Linked DNA regions of Homo sapiens. The protein of the gene in region 1 purifies or fractionates together with the protein of each later gene. This does not show direct contact. Each region holds a gene or a part of one and is shown in the gene's direction. Other genes may lie near its edges.

The links.
Region 2: the proteins of SLC27A5 (region 1) and DYM purify together in Homo sapiens (affinity purification with mass spectrometry; one large-scale study listed by BioGRID and IntAct). This does not show direct contact.

The regions. Positions count from the first base shown.
Region 1 is NC_000019.10:58,509,857-58,513,608, reverse strand, and holds the start of SLC27A5 (long-chain fatty acid transport protein 5), read left to right. Parts: upstream 1-1,616; 5' UTR 1,617-1,653; coding exon 1,654-2,341; intron 2,342-2,485; exon of another isoform or gene 2,486-2,678; coding exon 2,679-2,888; exon of another isoform or gene 2,889-3,603; coding exon 3,604-3,752. UniProt on the Homo sapiens protein: May mediate the import of long-chain fatty acids (LCFA) by facilitating their transport across cell membranes. Also catalyzes the ATP-dependent formation of fatty acyl-CoA using LCFA and very-long-chain fatty acids (VLCFA) as substrates.
Region 2 is NC_000018.10:49,377,092-49,380,743, reverse strand, and holds part of DYM (dymeclin), read left to right. Parts: intron 1-985; coding exon 986-1,079; intron 1,080-2,043; coding exon 2,044-2,177; intron 2,178-3,652. UniProt on the Homo sapiens protein: Necessary for correct organization of Golgi apparatus. Involved in bone development.

The DNA.
Region 1 (3,752 bases):
GACCCATCATATATGGGGGCTGGGCCTCGGGACTCTCGCTCTAATAAAGGACTGTAGGCCATGGGGCCTAAACCACGAAGCTGTGAGCACCTGGATCAGTGCGTGCCTTGCCCTCATAGACAAGATGTGAGTGTCAGGGTTCAGCGTCCCTGTTCTTGGGTGGCATCCATGCGGCCCACAGGCTGTCCTGGGCAGGAACAGGATGGTCCACTTTGCCATCTAGGACCTCTATTCTGTAGGGGCTAAGGTGGGCTGCATATATAACCAGCACTTGGTTCTCTTGGATCCCTCAGTCCTGTGGGGAGTAGGATAGGCAGGCCACATCTGAGGTGGGTCTCCGAGAGGGAGGCCACGTGAAAGCCCCATCATACTCCTGGTTGCTGCTGTCCACGACCTTTAAGGCCCCTCCCATAGATCTTCCAGTCAGGCTCTAAGGGTCTTTTGGACTTAAGACTTCCCCTCCCCGACCTTGATGGACATGGCTGAGCACCTTACTTGTGGGGAGCCCAGGGGGATCTTTGGGGCCAGGTTGCACTGAGGGTATATAAGCCCCCATATATCTGCCCTTGGTGCTGGGGGCAAAGTTCAGGGAGGGCTCCGATGGCCGTGTTGGGGGCAGGAAACAGTGAGGGGTGGGATCCTGGGGCTGACTGCTGGGCGGTTGGGGACACCACCCCTACTGGCCAGCCAGTGTCCCAGGCCCCTGCATCCAGCGGAGAGAGCAGCCACTCTTTGCCCCTCTCCTCTTCAGCACAATAGTGGCTCCTAGCCTAGGTGCCCTGCCATAAGGATTTGGAGCTGGTGGAGTGGGGTATGGCCCCAGGCCATACCCCAGCCTGACCTGCCAGGCTCCTAGGCCAATGGCAGCTCCTCTGGGTTCACCTTCTGAGACTGCTTCCTCAAGGTGAGAGGCCAGGGCTTTCATGATCCAACTGTGTGCATCATGGGCTGACTTCAGTCTCCTGAACCCCAGGACTCCATCGTCGTCAAAGCCAGAGGTGGAGCAGAGAGTCAGAGCAAGCACATGGGTGGGGGGCAGAGCTGGGTTTGAATCCAGGCGATGCCAGTGTTCCTGTATTTACTGAGCACTTGCTGTATGCCTGGCAGGAGGGTACGATTCCTCGGATCATGGGACAAGGGGCTTAGCCTGGCTGAGCCCCTCTCCTCAGGGTTTCAGTGGGTGTCACAGGAGGACCTCCCAATGAGGTCCACCTTGCTGTCCTGTTGCTTTTCTGTTTGGCCTGATTGGAGTGTTCCCAAGGGCAGGGATTTCTGTGCTCTGAGTGTCTGGTACCCAGCAGGGATGGGAGGGGAGGCAAGGGAGTTAGATGCCAGCCCTGGAGGGTGGATGGGGCAAGCAGGACAGCAGGAAGGAGGCTAGTGGTGCCCAAGGGGCAGAGACCTGGGAACCCAGAGGCCAGTGATGGAAAGGGTTAGCGCCAGGCAGAGAGGGGCTGGACCCACACACAAGACCAGGCAGAGCAAACAAACGTAGAGGAGAAGGGCTGGGGGCAAAGTCCTGGGGAGAGGACCAGCCACTGTCAGCAGTGCCAGGGCCACCACCCCTGGGGAGGAGCCATTGGGCTACTCTTGAGGGGCCAGAGGTGAGCCTGAACACTCCACAGCTGCTGCTCCTAGGGAGGAGCTGGTACCATGGGTGTCAGGCAACAGTTGGCCTTGCTGCTGCTGCTGCTGCTCCTGCTCTGGGGCCTGGGGCAGCCAGTGTGGCCAGTCGCTGTGGCCTTGACCCTGCGCTGGCTCCTGGGGGATCCCACATGTTGCGTGCTACTTGGGCTGGCCATGTTAGCACGGCCCTGGCTCGGCCCCTGGGTGCCCCATGGGCTGAGCCTGGCAGCTGCGGCCCTGGCACTAACCCTCCTGCCAGCACGGCTGCCCCCAGGACTACGCTGGCTGCCGGCTGATGTGATCTTCTTGGCCAAGATCCTCCACCTGGGCCTGAAGATCAGGGGATGCTTGAGCCGGCAGCCGCCTGACACCTTTGTAGATGCCTTCGAGCGGCGAGCACGAGCGCAGCCTGGCAGGGCACTCTTGGTGTGGACGGGGCCTGGGGCCGGCTCAGTCACCTTTGGTGAGCTGGATGCCCGGGCCTGCCAGGCGGCATGGGCCCTGAAGGCTGAGCTGGGTGACCCTGCGAGCCTGTGTGCCGGGGAGCCTACTGCCCTCCTTGTGCTGGCTTCCCAGGCCGTTCCAGCCCTGTGTATGTGGCTGGGGCTGGCCAAGCTGGGCTGCCCAACAGCCTGGATCAACCCGCATGGCCGGGGGATGCCCCTGGCGCACTCTGTGCTGAGCTCTGGGGCCCGGGTGCTGGTGGTGGACCCAGGTGAGGGCCTTGGAGCCAGTGGAGAATGGAAGGGGGCAAGGGCAGGGACTATAGGACAGGGGTTCTGCTGGGACTGGCAGAGGCCCTTGGTCCCCACCTGCCTACTTTCACAGGCAATTATAATCAAGACTTATGAGCAGAAAGTAGTTCTCAGGTCATCAGAGTTTAATTTTCCCACAATTTGACCAAAAATACTAATGATGGGATTCTTTACCAAACAACATGGATGCTTTTCTCTACTAGCTGCTCCTCTGCCTGCATCTGTGGGTCTCAGATCCCGCCTCGCAACCTCAAAGGTGAGCCTTGCCTCTGTTTCTCCTCTGACCCATCTCTGCAGACCTCCGGGAGAGCCTGGAGGAGATCCTTCCCAAGCTGCAGGCTGAGAACATCCGCTGCTTCTACCTCAGCCATACCTCCCCTACACCAGGGGTGGGGGCTCTGGGGGCTGCCCTGGATGCAGCGCCCTCCCACCCAGTGCCTGCTGACCTGCGTGCTGGGATCACATGGAGAAGCCCTGCCCTCTTCATCTATACCTCGGGGACCACTGGTGAGGGTGCCCATTAGCCCTAGCACCAGCCTCTGAACTCTCAGGCTGACCTGACCCCACACTTGACTTGTGACTCAGTGTTGACCTCTGAAACCACTTTACCCTCTGATTTTGACATTTGTTTTTTGTTTGGCTGTTTTTTTTTTCGAGGCAGAGTCTCGCTCTGTCGCCTAGGCTGGACTGCAGTGGTGCAATCTCGGCTCACTGCAACCTCCACCTCCTGGGTTCAAGCAATTCTCTTGCCTCAGCCTCCTGAGTAGCTGGGATTACAGGCACACACCACTATGCCCAGCTAATTTTTGTATTTTTGGTAGAGACAGGGTTTCCCCAAGTTAGCCAGGCTGGTCTCTAACCCCTGACCTCAGGGGACCTGCCCAACTCAGCCTCTCAAAATGCTGGGATTACAGGCGTGAGCCACTGCTCCCAGACTTGATTTTGATATTTGGCCTGAACTCTGACCCCCAATGTAATTTGAGAGGTCAATGCCAGAATTCTTCCTGTGTCCAGTAAACAGCCACTGAAACCTTTGATCTTGACATATTACTTTCAGTCCAAATTCAGCCTGTGAACCCAACCACAAATCCCTATACTTGACTGTTCTCTGAGAGCCTCAAACCCCAATGTAGGCCTGGCTGTTGGAGATCTATCCCTCTGGTCAGGCCCCTCTCTGTGCTGTCATGTCACCACCCTGCCCTTGCCATGCCTTCATCCCAAGGCCTCCCGAAGCCAGCCATCCTCACGCATGAGCGGGTACTGCAGATGAGCAAGATGCTGTCCTTATCTGGGGCCACAGCTGATGATGTGGTTTACACGGTCCTGCCTCTGTACCACGTGATGGGACTTGTCGTTGGGATCCTCGGCTGC
Region 2 (3,652 bases), on another chromosome or scaffold:
GTCAAATGGAAGGTTCTACAAAATAGTCTCTCCCTTCTGATGAATTCTTAGCTTCTGTGACTTGCTGTGCAGCCCAATAGAGCTTTATAGTTTCCTTAAGTCCAATTTCTTGATTATAGAGGTTGCTTCAACCTAGCAGTTTAAAGTCAAAGATTTGAGCCAGTTGATAAGGATGTTTCCTTGAGCAAGTAACAACCTCCAGGTGAGGATCGGTGAAATGCAAGTGATACTAGTGCTTTTCCTGGAGGGTTGGTGTGAGGATTAAATGAGTTAATGCATGTAAAGCACCTACTCTATGTTGTTCAGCATATGTTAGCTGTTGTTTCTTTTACAGATGAGAAAACTGAGGTTGGAGAAGTACAGTGATTTGTCTGAGATTCAGTATTCAGTTAATTATAGACCTGGATCTAGAAACTAAATCTTCTGATTCCTGATACAGTTGCTGAAATGCCCATCGTTTAAAGTTAAAAAAAAATTCTTTAAAGTTTTGTCTGGTCAAATAGCTCCCCTTCTAGCCACACTGCTTTGTTGATATGTTTTCTTAATTTTTCATTCAAATGATTTGTAATCTGAAGAGTGTTTTAGATTTAATAAACTTTTATAGTTTATTATATTCTATATACTGGAGACATAGATAATCAATTTTTGAGTTTTTAAAAATCTCCTTTCTAGAGAAAGATTTAGTGTGTAAGTTGAATGTGTCTATTAACTATTTTTTCCTTTATGATTTTGGATTCTGAGATAAGATGGCTACTTGTACTGTTTCTATCATTTTCATTTTGCAAATCAGTTTTTGATGTTCAGAATTAAGACCAAGAGCAGCAGTTTCTCTCATTGCTTAGTTCTCTAATTAGGTATGAAATTAACAGTAAAGTTGGTCACTGAGCAATTTTAATATGACATTTGGTTTTATAAATGTTATGATAAGCTCACTTTGATTTTAGTTCTTAAATTTAACTTTTTAAAACCTTTTCTTCTCTTGCAGTTGAAAACAATCCTCGAACAGGAAATCTTGGTGCACTAATTAAGGTCTTCCTTTCTAGAACCAAAGAACTAAAACTTTCAGCAGAATGTCAGAAGTAAGCTGGCTAATTAAACCATGTTTGCTTTATATTTAACAATGTGAATTTTAGTTTTCATTTATTGATGGAAATGGACTGTGGTCTTTTGAAAATCTCTGTGAAGGAATTATTCTCATTATTAAGAAAAAAAGGTAGAGAGGTTTTAGGTTAGTGTCTAAGTCACTGGGGTGAGATTATAGATTCGGGAATCTGATTTCAGCTTTTTAGACAATCTTTAGATTATATTCTTTAAGAAGGTGAATAATGATGTAATTATCGTTAAGAAGGTAATTCCCCTCCCCCCCATTATCACTGCTGCTGCTATCTAGTTTAAATGATGACTTAGTCTGAGTTTTATTTCATTCTACATCTGTTGCAGTTATTTCCGTTATATTCTTTACATCAATGGAAGGTTAACTTTTTATGCACTGAAGCATTTTTCAAAACCATGTTTGGATGTCAGTCTCTGAAAAGATTAAAATATTTTGCATTGTCTTGCTTATAAACAAATTACATTGAATCCAATAAAGTTTTTCTTGGGAGTTCATGGTCATTAATACAAATAAAAAGTATTTTACCGTGCTGCTGGCAATGCCTCGTCGAAAATTTTGGTTACATATTTGCATATATTCTTTTTATGTTACCACAATTTTTTAAATTTTTTGGTAGCTTTCTTCTCTTTTAATCGCATGTACGTGGTATACCTATTAAGAACAAAGAACAGTCATTCCTACAGTCATCAGTAAAGATTTTTATTAAGTAGATTCACTATGTAAAGTACATGGAATGAACTATGAAGTAAAACATAATATCACTGGTACAATGAAATAAATCATGAGCCATTAAAAGATATGGACATTATCCTAATATTACCAATAGGATGGACAAAACGGTTGTCAAATCAGGAAGAAATCATGAACTAGAAATAAACTATGGTGCTTATGTTTAAATATTGATTCTTGTATGATTTTGGTCTTTCTAGCCACATCTTCATTTGGCAGACACACAATGCTTTGTTTATTATTTGCTGTTTGCTGAAAGTGTTCATCTGTCAGATGTCAGAGGAGGAATTACAACTTCATTTTACTTATGAAGAAAAATCTCCTGGCAATTACAGTAAGTATTGTTTTTAAAGATGTTCTGGATATATCATGTGTAACATTTAAGGATAAAATTTCAGGAATAAAAGTATGATTTTGAAAATTCCAGTTATCCTTATAATTTTCATTTTAAAATGAACTTATACTGTCATTTTTTCTTTTTCTGTGTTAATTTAAATGAGTCAAGACTCAAGCGTTTTTTGTTTTTGTTTTTCGTTTTAAATAAGAAAGCTGGTGGGGTTGAAGCTTTCATTTATTTTGACTTTCATGCATGTGGATGAAGAAGAAAGTAATATAAAAAATAAAACTCACACAAATATGTATTTCTTTCAGAAAACAGAGGTGTCAGTTTTAAATATCATTGCCAAGTCAATATATTATTAAGGGAGCCAACTAGTCAGATTTTATGGTAAAGGTTACTTTCATAGCGTGCAGCAATAGCTTCTGGGTCTGAGTGTCTTTGGGACTACGACACTTTATCAGAAGTAACATTTTCAAGGACAGTTTTATGATGCCAAAGTGTCTCATCTTTTTCTGAAGATACAGGGAAAGATTACCCTTCACACAATCTTTCCTTTCTGAGGGCAAGGCAGTGTTGCCCCATAGTTTTCCGAGTTCTGTTTTCAAAATAGATCTCTGCCCTCATCAGGCTGACAGCGTCACCTGTGTGATTCAAGGTCATATGTTAACATCTCTTGTGGGAACAGGTATTGGGAGAGAACTTTGAGATGTGTATACTTTTAATGGAGGTCTGTGTGCTATGTGGATTTCATGCATATGTATAATAACACTTTCATATACCTAGGAGTAATTTTTCACTGTGGTTTCAACTGTGTTGCTAAATACGTGTTTTTAAATGTCAAAGTCAAATATTGACAAAGGGAAACAAACGTATAAAAGAGTTACTGTTCATCCAGGTCAACATCACAATGTACTGATTTTTCAGTATATCCATGTCTATGGGGAATATTTCTTAAATTCTATTATAGAATTTTTATTTATATTTTTATTTTTATTTTTTTTGAGATGGAGTCTCGCTCTGTTGCCCAGGCTGGAATGCAGTGGTGCGATCTTGGCTCACTGCAGCCTCTGCCTCCTGAGTTCAAGCAATTCTCCTGTCTCAGCCTCCTGAGTAGCTGGGACTACAGGTGCATTCCACCAAGCCCAGCTAATTTTTGTATTTTTAGTAGAGATGGGGTTTCAGCATGTTGGCCAGGCTGATCTTGAACTCCTGACCTCAAGTGATCCACCCACCTTGGCCTTCCAAAGTGCTGGGATTACAGGCATGAGCCACCGTGCCCGGCCTAGAATTTTTAAAAACAATATTATGGGGAAGTAGAAAAGATTCTGTGGAAAGTTAACCTTTTGTGCATTCAAGCATTTCTTAAAACTATTTTTAGATGGCAAAAATCTTATGGAAATTCTGGTTATATCATTTAAATGTATTAAGGTATTATGTTACATTTTGAGCAAATGAAATGACATGGTACA